Linked DNA regions of Homo sapiens. The protein of the gene in region 3 purifies or fractionates together with the protein of the main gene of each other region. This does not show direct contact. Each region holds a gene or a part of one and is shown on either strand. Other genes may lie near its edges.

What was found.
Region 1: the proteins of IFT74 (region 3) and SIGLEC7 purify together in Homo sapiens (affinity purification with mass spectrometry; 2 studies listed by BioGRID and IntAct, with this or other methods). This does not show direct contact.
Region 2: the proteins of IFT74 (region 3) and LRRFIP1 purify together in Homo sapiens (co-immunoprecipitation; 3 studies listed by BioGRID and IntAct, with this or other methods). This does not show direct contact.

What each region holds. Positions count from the first base shown.
Region 1 is NC_000019.10:51,148,689-51,152,342, forward strand, and holds part of SIGLEC7 (sialic acid-binding Ig-like lectin 7 isoform 1 precursor), read left to right. Parts: intron 1-3,654. UniProt on the Homo sapiens protein: Putative adhesion molecule that mediates sialic-acid dependent binding to cells. Preferentially binds to alpha-2,3- and alpha-2,6-linked sialic acid.
Region 2 is NC_000002.12:237,756,521-237,760,174, forward strand, and holds part of LRRFIP1 (leucine-rich repeat flightless-interacting protein 1), read left to right. Parts: intron 1-935; coding exon 936-1,028; intron 1,029-2,208; coding exon 2,209-2,301; intron 2,302-3,543; coding exon 3,544-3,654.
Region 3 is NC_000009.12:26,962,841-26,966,494, reverse strand, and holds part of IFT74 (intraflagellar transport protein 74 homolog), read right to left. Parts: intron 1-3,654. UniProt on the Homo sapiens protein: Component of the intraflagellar transport (IFT) complex B: together with IFT81, forms a tubulin-binding module that specifically mediates transport of tubulin within the cilium. Binds beta-tubulin via its basic region. Required for ciliogenesis.

The DNA.
Region 1 (3,654 bases), on a different chromosome or scaffold from region 3:
TCTGAGTATAAAACCAGTAATGTGATTGCTATGTCAAATGATAGTTCTGCTTTTAGCTCTTCAGGAAATTACCATACTGCTTTCCACAGTGGTTGAACTAATTTACACTCCTGCCGACAGTATAAGTGTTCCCTTTTCTCTGCAGCCTTGCCAGCCTCTGTGATTTTTTTTACTTTTTAAAAGTAGCCATTCTGACTGGTGTGAGATGATATTTCATTGTGGTTCTGATTTGCGTTTCTCTAGTGATCAGCGATAATGAGCTTTTTCTCATATGTCTGTTGGCCAAAAATGTCTGTTCATGTCCTTTGCTCACTTTTTAATGGGGTTGTTTTTCTCTTGTAAATTTGTTTAAGTTCCTTATAGATGCTGGATATTAGACCTTTGCCTAATGCATAGTTTGCAAGTATTTTCTCCCATTCCGGTTGTTTACTCTGTTGATGGTTTATTTTGCTGTGCAGGAGCTCTTAAGTTTAATTAGATCCCATTTGTCAATTTTTGCTTTTGTTGTGATTGCTTTGGCATCTTTGTCAGGAAATCTTTGCCTGTTTATCCAGAACGATATTGCCTACATTGTCTTCCAGAGTTTTTATAGTTTTGAGTTTTACATTTAAGTTTTTAACCCATCTCGAGTTGATTTTTATATGTGGTATAAGGAAGCAGTCCCACTCAATCTTCTGCATGTGGCTAGACAGTTATCCCAGCACCATTTATTGAATCAGGAGTCCTTTCCCCATTGCTTTTTTTTGTCAGCTTTGTTGAAGATCAAATTGTTGTAGGTGTGTGGCTTTATTTCTGGGCTCTCTATTCCGTTCCATTGGTCTATGTGTCTGTTTTTGTACCACTACCATGCTGTTTTGGTTACTGTAGACTTGTAATATAGTTTAAATTTGGGTAACGTGATGCCTCCAGGTTTTCTTTTTGCTTAGGATTGCCTTGGCTATTTGGGCACTTTTTTGGTTTCATATGAATTTTAAAATTGTTTTTTCTAGTTCTGTGAAGAATCTCATTGGTAGTTTGATAGAAATAGCATTGAATGTATAAATTTCTTTGGGCAGTATGGCCATTTTAATGATTTTGATTCTTTTTATCCATGAGCATAGTATGTTTTTCCATTTGTGTCACCTTTGATTTATTTGAGCAGTGTTTTGTAATTCTCATTGTAGAGTTCTTTCACCTCCCTGGTTAGCTGTATTTCTAAAAATTTTATTCTTTTTGTGGCAATTGTGAATGGGATTGTGTTCCTAATGTGACTCTTGGCTTGGTAGTTCCTGATGTATAGAAATACTAGTGATTTTTCTATATTGATTTTGTATCCTGAAACTTTGCTGAAGTTATTTATCATTTAAGAAGCTTTTGGGCTGGGACTACGAGGTTTTCTAGATATAGAATCATGCATCTGCAAAGAGGGATAGTTTAAATTCCTCTCTTCCTATTTGGATGCTCTTTATTTCTTTCTCTTGCCTGATTGCTCTGGCCAGAATTTCCAATACTACGTTAAACAGGAGTGGTGAGAGAGGGCATCCTTGTCTTGTGCTGGCTTTCAAGGGGAATGCTTTCAGCTTTTCCATATTCAATATGATGTTGGCTCTGCGTTCACCATAGATAGCTCTTATTATTTTGAGATATGTTCCTTTAATACCTAGTTTACTGAGAGTTTTTAACACGAAGCGATGCTGAATTTTATCAAAAGCCTTTTCTGCATCTATTGAGATAATCATGTGTTTTTGTCTTTAGTTCTGTTTGTGTGGTGAATCACATTTATTGATTTGTGTATGTTGAACCAACATGAAGCCGACTTGATCATATTGGATTAACCTTCTGATGTGCTGATGGATTCAGTTTGCAAGTATTTTGTTGAGGATTTTTGCATCAATGTTCATCAAGGATATTGGCCCGAAGTTTTCTTCTTTTGTTGTGTCTTCGCCAGATTTTGGTATCAGGATGATACTGGCCTCATAGAATGAGTTAGGGAAGAGTCAGTCTTCCTCCGTATTTGGGAATAGTTTCAGTAGGAACAGAAGGAGGCTCAGATCTGACATTTATTGTGTGATTGAAGAGCCTTCCAGGCAGAGGGAGGAGCAAAGCAAGGCCCAGGCACAGGAAGAGGAAAGGAGAGGAGCCATGGGACATCTGTGTGATTAGACAGAGGGAGGCAGGACTGAGAGCAGGAAATGACTTTGGAGGAGTTGAGCCTATGTGAATTGTGTCTGACTGCACAGGCTACTGTGAGCATTTGGAGAGTTTTGAGCAGAAGGACATGATCAGACGAGATTGGGTCCGTTCAGGGTGGTATAGCTGTAGACCAGAAGAACATGATCAACTTTCATTTTCATGGGATTCCTCTGGCCACTGTGTGCAGAAGAGACCGTGTGTGTGGCAGGGGAAGGAGAGAGCATAGGAGGTAGACAGGAGGCTGGTGAACATCCCAGGCAGAAGGTGGTGTTGGCTGGAACCAAGATAGCAGCAGTGGTAGACATGACTGTCTCCCAGATGAATTCTGCAGTGGAACCTACTGGGATTTGTTAATGAATTGGAATTAGAATGTGAGCCACAGAAAGGGAGCAAGAATTACTTCCAGATTTTTGCCCTGAGCAGTGGGAAGAATGGAGGTGCCAATCATTGAGGCTGAGAAGATTGCAGAAGAAATGGATTTGGGAAAGAAAAGGAGGAGTTCAGATTGAATAGGTTGAGTTTTGTGTGTCTTTGGACAAGAACGCGGGGGTTTGAATTATACCACTGGATCAAAGACTATAGTCAGGAGAAAGGAGTGGGCTGGGGGTACAGATTTGGGAGTCATTAGCCTATTGATGGCATGAAGCCAACACAGTGGATAAGATCACAAGGCAAAGGTAAAGAAGAAAAGAACCCGGGGCTGCTCTGATATTTAAGGTCAGGGAGACCTGAAGCAATTGGCAAAGAGGTTGCCAAGAAGGTGAGGTGGACCCAGAAAAGCATGATGTCCTATAGTTGAGTCAAGAAGGCCTTCTGTGTAGGGAAGGTGAGCAGCTGGGTCCTCTGCTGCTGAAAAGTCCAGGAAGGAGAAGACTGCAAGGTGGACATTTAGACTCAGCCACTTAAGTGGTAGTCACAGTGACCTTGATAGTAGCAGTGCTTAGACTTGGTATGTGTGTGAATATTAATTTGAGTAATCAAGAGAGAATCTGGCAAGCAAAATCACTGACAGTTCCATGGAGCATCTTCTGCACAGGGGAGCAGCAGGGAAGGGCTGCGATGAAGGAGGACCCTCCCAGGCAGCCTCTGTCACTCTCTGCTGTGTGAGTCTGTATTAGTTTCCTGTGGCTGCTGTGACAAATTACCATGCATTTCCTGGCTTCCAACAACACACATGGATTAAAGTTCTGAAGGTCACAACCCCAAAATGGGTGTCACTGGGCCAAAATCAAGGCATTGGCAGGCAGGGCTGGTTCCTTCTGGAGGCTCCAGGGGAGGATGCAATTTCTCACCCTTTCTGGCTTCTAGAGGCACCTGCATTCCTTGGCTCAAGTCCCTTCCTCTGTTTGCAAGGCAAGTAGCCTGGCATCTTCCAATCTCTCTAAGCCCTCCTCCTTTCACTTGTAAGGACTCCTGTCATTCCACTGGGCCCACCCAAATAATCCAGGATAACCTCCCCATGTCAATATCCTTAACCTAGCT
Region 2 (3,654 bases), on a different chromosome or scaffold from region 3:
TTACTTCGTAAAAACCCTATCTCCAAATACAGTCACATTGGGCATTAGGGCTTCAACAGATGAATTTAGAGGGACACAATTCATTCCATGGCAATTACTAAAGTTTTCAGTTTTCTTAAATCTGAGAGTTTAGGCTAACTCTCCATCCCTAGATTTACGAAACAGTCCCTCTCATTGGTGAACATTCCTATTCTTTGGTGATCTTGTATTTGTTTGGGGAGGTGTGGTAGACAGAATAATGGTCCCCCGAAGTTGCCTACATCCAGATCCCTGGAAACTGTAAATATGATGCCTTACATGGTTAAAGGGCCCCTGCAGTTGTGATGAGAGACCTTGAGAGAAGGGATTATCCTGGATTATTTGATGGAACAAGCATCCTTCTAAGAGGAAGGCAACTCAAAGGCAGAAGTAGAAGATGTGACACAGGAAGCTGAGGTTGGAGCGATGCGAGAGAGGGGCCATGAGCCAAGGAAAGCAGCTCAGTCTTAGAAGCTGAAAAAGGCAGGGAAACAGATTCTCCCTAGAGCCTTCCAGAAAGGCTTGATTTTAGCCCATAAGACTCATTTTGGACTTCTGACCTCTAGAATTGCAAGAGAATAAATTTGTGTTTTAAGCTGCTGAATTTATGACGATTCATTACAATGGCAATAAGAAACTAATACAGGGTTGGTTTTTAATTTTTTGACTTAATCGGTTCTTTAACTGCTGCCTTGAAGTGAGAATTTCACCCAAAGCAGGTTTTCTTCCTGCACTTCTTGAAGCCGGAAGTAGGACAAGGAAAAAAATCCTAGAATGCTGACAATGAGTTCAGGGTTGATGAGGTGAAAGAGTGCTTGCGGCCTCACTCACTGTCCCAGCTCTCAGGTTCTCTCTCGGGCTGGGGTTTTTCTTCCTCTTTAACCCTTTATCTGCTTTCTGTCTGTTCCTTTCCTCAGGAAATCCGACAGCTACAGCAGAAACAGGCGAGTTCTATCAGGGAGATTTCTGATCTTCAGGAAACAATAGAGTGGAAAGACAAAAAGATAGGGGTAGGATTCCCAAGTCTTGAAAATCTACTCAAATGGGCAGCCTGCTTAGCAAATAGAGTTTTTTCAGAGTCTTTAGTTTGCAAAACCGCTTGTCTGAGTATGCATGCAACTCCCACGTGACACAAAGTCGTATTAATTTATTTAATTTTATTAAGTAGTGAATACACTAACTTATCCAAATTGATATGAACTTGGATTGTGACACGGACTCTCCATGGAGGGTCTTGTGAATGCGTAGCTGTGCGCTCTGCCTGCCCCGTGGCTGGGCCGGGCCGGTGGTTGTTGAAACAGCTGGAGTGAGGAGGACACTCTGAGGAGGTCTGATGTGTGCAAGTCCAGACGTCTTGGGATTATCTGCCTGGTGGTGCTTTGAGAAAAAAAATCTAAGCACCACCAGGCAGATATCCCCACTTTGAAATCTTCCCCAGGGAAGGTCTCCACATACCCTTCTCCCTCCACAAGAAGAAAAGAGGCAGTTCTACACTTAGAATTGAAGGATAGGGGGAACAGAACCCCACAAAGTAGTTGTCATGATTGGTAACAACAAATGGTTTCCCCAAAATGGTGATTCCTACACATAGCTCTAATAAAGACGTCGAGATACCTGCACAAACCATCGGCACGTTGACTCAAGCCACACTGTGTTTCCACTGTCACGCTCATCAGCACTTAGGAGTGTGTGTGTGTGTGTGTGTGTCTGCATGCACGCACACTTTAGGACCACTTCATTTATCTGAGATGATGGATACCAAGAATCAGTGTATAAAAATAGTCTAAATGGCTACAACAGCCGTCCTGGGAGGTGCTTAAGCAATCCCTTTTCTTTACTGACCCCTCATTCAAGTGGAGACTTTGCGTAACTCTAACGCAGCTGTGAACACGCAGACAAAGCTAGAAAGTGATGCAAATATAGTAACCTCTGGGGCCCCGTGCTGTGTCCGTGTGCTTCAAGATGCGCATGTCTTTCATGGAGTATGAACAGTAACATTTCTTGGATTATATATACTAAGCGAAAAGCTTAATACTTGGATTTTGTTAGTATCTTTAGGCAGAGTCTCTTTAATGTCTAGAGTCCACTAGTGTTTTAGATGGTAGAAGCCTCCTTCTGGTTCCTGCTTCTGAAGTAACTTGCTCATCTGTGCAAATCTTCTTCTTTCTCTTGGCTCTGCTGCACACTCAGGCATTAGAGAGGCAGAAAGAGTTCTTTGATTCCGTAAGGAGTGAACGGGATGATCTTAGAGAAGAAGTAGTCATGCTGAAAGAGGAATTAAAGGTATGAAGCCAAACTACAGTTTTATTTAAAAAAAAAGAAAAAAAATCCAGGTGACAACAGCAAATTTTGGGATGCTGTGAATATGTGTGTACATAATTCATTTTATGTCATTTAGTTCTGTTAATAATTCATATATTGGGTTAACTGACAGCGATGAGATGTAAAATAAATGTAGGTTCAGTGGGTGGTGCCCAAGGCCTTTTGATGTTAATAAACATAGCCAATCTTGAATGCAAGAATTTTTTGATACATTATCTAAATTTTTCTCATACTCACTAGTAAATTCTCCAGGATATTACTCAGACTTAGAGAATTAATTTGCCTCTTTATATTAAAACCCCCAATTTAAGGACTTCTCTAGAGGAACAGTGACTTGGGTAAGTGGTTTGGGCAAGGATCCCGCTAATTAGACTTTGAGACCTACTAGATTACAGGTGGAAGACGGTTCCCTGTCCTTGGTGGGCCACGCCAAGGCGTCTTCAGCCGCTGCTTGACACAGGTGAAGCGCCAGTGGCAGCACTCTGGGTGGGGGGGTTCCTGAACCGTCACCATCTGCTGCTTGGCCTCCAGGGTCAAAGCCAGAGCAGTGAGCCAGCCAGCTACAGGCTTAGAGCTAAGATTCGTAATTCTGCTCCTTGAAGAGGCGATCAGTTCAGGGGAGTTCCTCACACACAAGGGAGAGAGAGCCACAGGCGGCAGGAGGGCATGGGTGAGTGATGTCTGCAGTTGGGAAGTGCTGCTGTTTTCAGTGAATTCTGTTTCTTTTGAATATACTGAACATTCTAGCCACCTCTGAATTCCTTCTTTAACATAAGTTTCGTGTGTCTCTTTCAGAACATGTATATATTTCTTTCTTTATCTGGTTTCTCTTTTTAAAGAATGCAATCAGGGTTTTGAAATGAAAGGTCACTTGGCAGTGACTTGCTTACTGCTCCACTTGGGGGCAGCCCACAGGCCACTACCTGTAGTTAAAAAGGATGCCTGGTGGAAGTAGCTTGTCACCAGCAAATGAAAGCATGGATTGGAACATCTGAGAAAGAAGTAGCCTTTGGAGGACGATATCCCAGATTTGTGTGTGTTGACCGAATATTTACGAGTGCTGCACCCTAGCATTTCTCTTGTCTCTGTGGAGTTACCCTGTACTTCAGGAAAAAATGGTTTTCTTTTTTATTATTGTATTAAAACAGAGTTTAACCTAATATCACTGAGTAAATATTACGATGAGCCTATTTTTGTTCCCAGAAACATGGAATAATCCTAAATTCAGAAATAGCTACCAATGGAGAGACTTCCGACACCCTCAATAATGTTGGATACCAAGGTCCTACCAAGATGACAAAAGAAGAGTTAAAT
Region 3 (3,654 bases):
TGAATAGACAACTTCTCAAAAGAAGATATACAAACGTCAAACAGGTATACGAAAAGGTGCTCAACATCACTGATCATCAGAGAAATGCAAATCAAAACTACAGTGAGATATCATCTCACTCCAGTTAAAACGACTTTTATCCAAAAGAAAGGCAATAGCAAATGCTGACAAATATATAAAGAAAAGGGAACCTTTGTACAGTGTTGGGGGGAATGTAAGTTAGTATAACTACTATGGAGAACAGTATGGAAGTTCCTCAAAAAACTAAAAATAGAACTATCATATGATCCAGCAATCCCACTGCAAAAGGAAAGAAATCATTATTTCAAAAAGATACCTGCATTCCTATGTTTATCACACTACTTGCCACAATAGCGAATATATGAAAAAAAAACCTGACTGTCCATCAATGGAGATGGAGGGCTACGTAAAGAAAATGTGGTATACATGTATATACATATATATACACACACACATATACACATATATATATATACACATACTATGAAACACTACTCTGCCATAATAAAGAAATCATGTCTTTTGCAGCAATATGGTTGGAACCAGAGGCCATGATCCTAAGTGAAACAATTCAGAAAGAGAAAGTCAAATACCGCATGTTCTCACTTATAAGTGGGAGCTAAACAATGGGTACATACGGACATACAGAGTGAGATAACAGACACTAAAGATTACAAAAGATGAGTGGGAGGAAGGTGAGGGTTGCTAAATTACATATTGGGTACAGTGTTCACTATTCAGGTGATGGGTACACTAAAAGCCCACACTTCATCATTACATAATATATGCATGTAAGACAACTGACCTACCCCATGAATACATACAAATTTTAAAATTTTACAAATAAACAGATAACGTGCCTGGCAAATAGTAGGTGGCCAATAAATGTCAGATTCTTTTTATAAATATTTAATTATCAATTTTTACTGGAATAAAAGAAAAAGATACCCTTACTATCCTATGTATGAAGACTTCAGAAAAATTATTTCAGTCTAAGTTGATGACGATGTCCTAATATTATTACCTGAAACTCTAGAAAAAAAATCTGAAAACTTTAGGAAAATCTGACTTTAACAAAATTATTCCCTCCAAAAAATGCTGCTCTTCTTATGAGTTAACCATAGGACCCAACATTATCTGTAGTTTGCACTTAGCCTACTGTAGGAGGTTGAGTATTGGCCCTCTGCACCTTCTCAGTTGAAATCACCTGTGTGAAAATCAGATAAATTTATGGACATTTTTGTCTATTCATTTATTTCCATTTCAATTCTATGTATTTATAAATTTATGTTTTCTATGTTAAATTGATATCACTTTTAAACTTTTGTTAAAGTATATTATTTTCTGAAATATCTTGAAAGTAGTTTGTAATGACTATCTAACAGCCTTTATAGGGATATACATATCATTATTTAAGATTCACCTGTTGTAAGTCTTCTAGGTTGTTTCCCAATTTTTACATTATAATGATAACGAAAATGTAATAATTATCTTTACAGGATATCCTTCTGCTTAGAATATCAACTCATAAACTTCATCTAACTTTTCCTCATATGATGTGTTTCTCTTATTCACTATTTATGACACACTCTCTTATATTAAGCTCTTTAACATTTACTAGAGTTTACCTCCAGGTGCCGTGGCAATCAGAATATTGTTTCACTCATTGTCTATAACATATTTTACATTAGAGTACTGTACTTTTTCTTATTTTTGTGGTATTGTTCTAGATGAGTTTTAGAATAGTTTTATAATATTACCCCTAGCATCAAAAGAAATGTCATGAAATTTTGATTGGACATAAGGCTTGTGGTCTTAATACAGAAAGAGCACTTAAAAATTAGTAAAGTTTACAACAAATGGAAGAACATTCCATGCTCACGGGTAGGAAGAATCAATATCATGAAAATGGCCATACTGCCCAAGGTAATTTATAGATTCAATGCCATCCCCATCAAGCTACCAATGACTTTCTTCACAGAATTGGAAAAAACTACTTTAAAGTTCATATGGAACCAAAAAAGAGCCCGCATCGCCAAGTCAATACTAAGCCAAAAGAACAAAGCTGGAGGCATCACACTACCTGACTTCAAACTATACTACAAGGCTACAGTAACCAAAACAGCATGGTACTGGTACCAAAACAGAGATATAGATCAATGGAACAGAACAGAGCCCTCAGAAATAACGCCGTATATCTACAACTATCTGATCTTTGACAAACCTGAGAAAAACAAGCAATGGGGAAAGGATTCCCTATTTAATAAATGGTGCTGGGAAAACTGGCTAGCCATATGTAGAAAGCTGAAACTGGATCCCTTCCTTACACCTTATACAAAAATCAATTCAAGATGGATTAAAGACTTAAACGTTAGACCTAAAACCATAAAAACCCTAGAAGAAAACCTAGGCATTACCATTCAGGACATAGGCATGGGCAAGGACTTCATGTCTAAAACACCAAAAGCAATGGCAACAAAAGCCAAAATTGACAAATGGGATCTCATTAAACTAAAGAGCTTCTGCACAGCAAAAGAAACTACCATCAGAGTGAACACGCAACCTACAAAATGGGAGAACATTTTCGCAACCTACTCATCTGACAAAGGGCTAATATCCAGAATCTATCTACAATGAACTCCAACAAATTTACAAGAAAAAAACAAACAACCCCATCAAAAAGTGGGCGAAAGACATCAACCGACACTTCCCAAAAGAAGACATTTATGCAGCCAAAAAACACATGAAACAATGCTCATCATCACTGGCCATCAGAGAAATGCAAGTCAAAACCACAATGAGACACCATCTCACACCAGTTAGAATGGCGATCATTAAAAAGTCAGGAAACAACAGGTGCTGGAGAGGATGTGGAGAAATAGGAACACTTTTACACTGTTGGTGGGACTGTAAACTAGTTCAACCATTGTGGAAGTCAGTGTGGCGATTCCTCAGGGATCTAGAACTGGAAATACCATTTGACCCAGCCATCCCATTACTGGGTATATACCCAAAGGACTATAAATCATGCTGCTATAAAGACACATGCACACGTATGTTTATTGCGGCATTATTCACAATAGCAAAGACTTGGAACCAACCCAAATGTCCAACAATGATAGACTGGATTAAGAAAATGTGGCACATATACACCATGGAATACCATGCAATCATAAAAAATGATGAGTTCATGTCCTTTGTAGGGACATGGATGAAATTGGAAATCATCATTCTCAGTAAACTACCGCAAGAACAAAAAACCAAACACCGCATATTCTCACTCATAGGTGGGAATTGAACAATGAGATCACATGGACACAGGAAGGGGAATATCACACTCTGGGGACTGTTGTGGGGTGCGGGGAGAGAGGAGGGATAGCATCGGGAGATACACCTAATGCTAGATGACGAGTTAGTGGGTGCAGCACACCAGCATGGCACATGTATACATATGTAACTAACCTGCACAATGTGCACATGTACCCTAAAACTTAAAGTATAACAAAAAAATAAAAATAAAAAAAAGAAAAAAAGAAAAAAAAAAAAATTAGTAAAGTTTACCTTTTAATTTTAAGATTCTGATCCTATATATGGTATATATATTATAAATGTTTTTACCAGTTGTCATTTCTA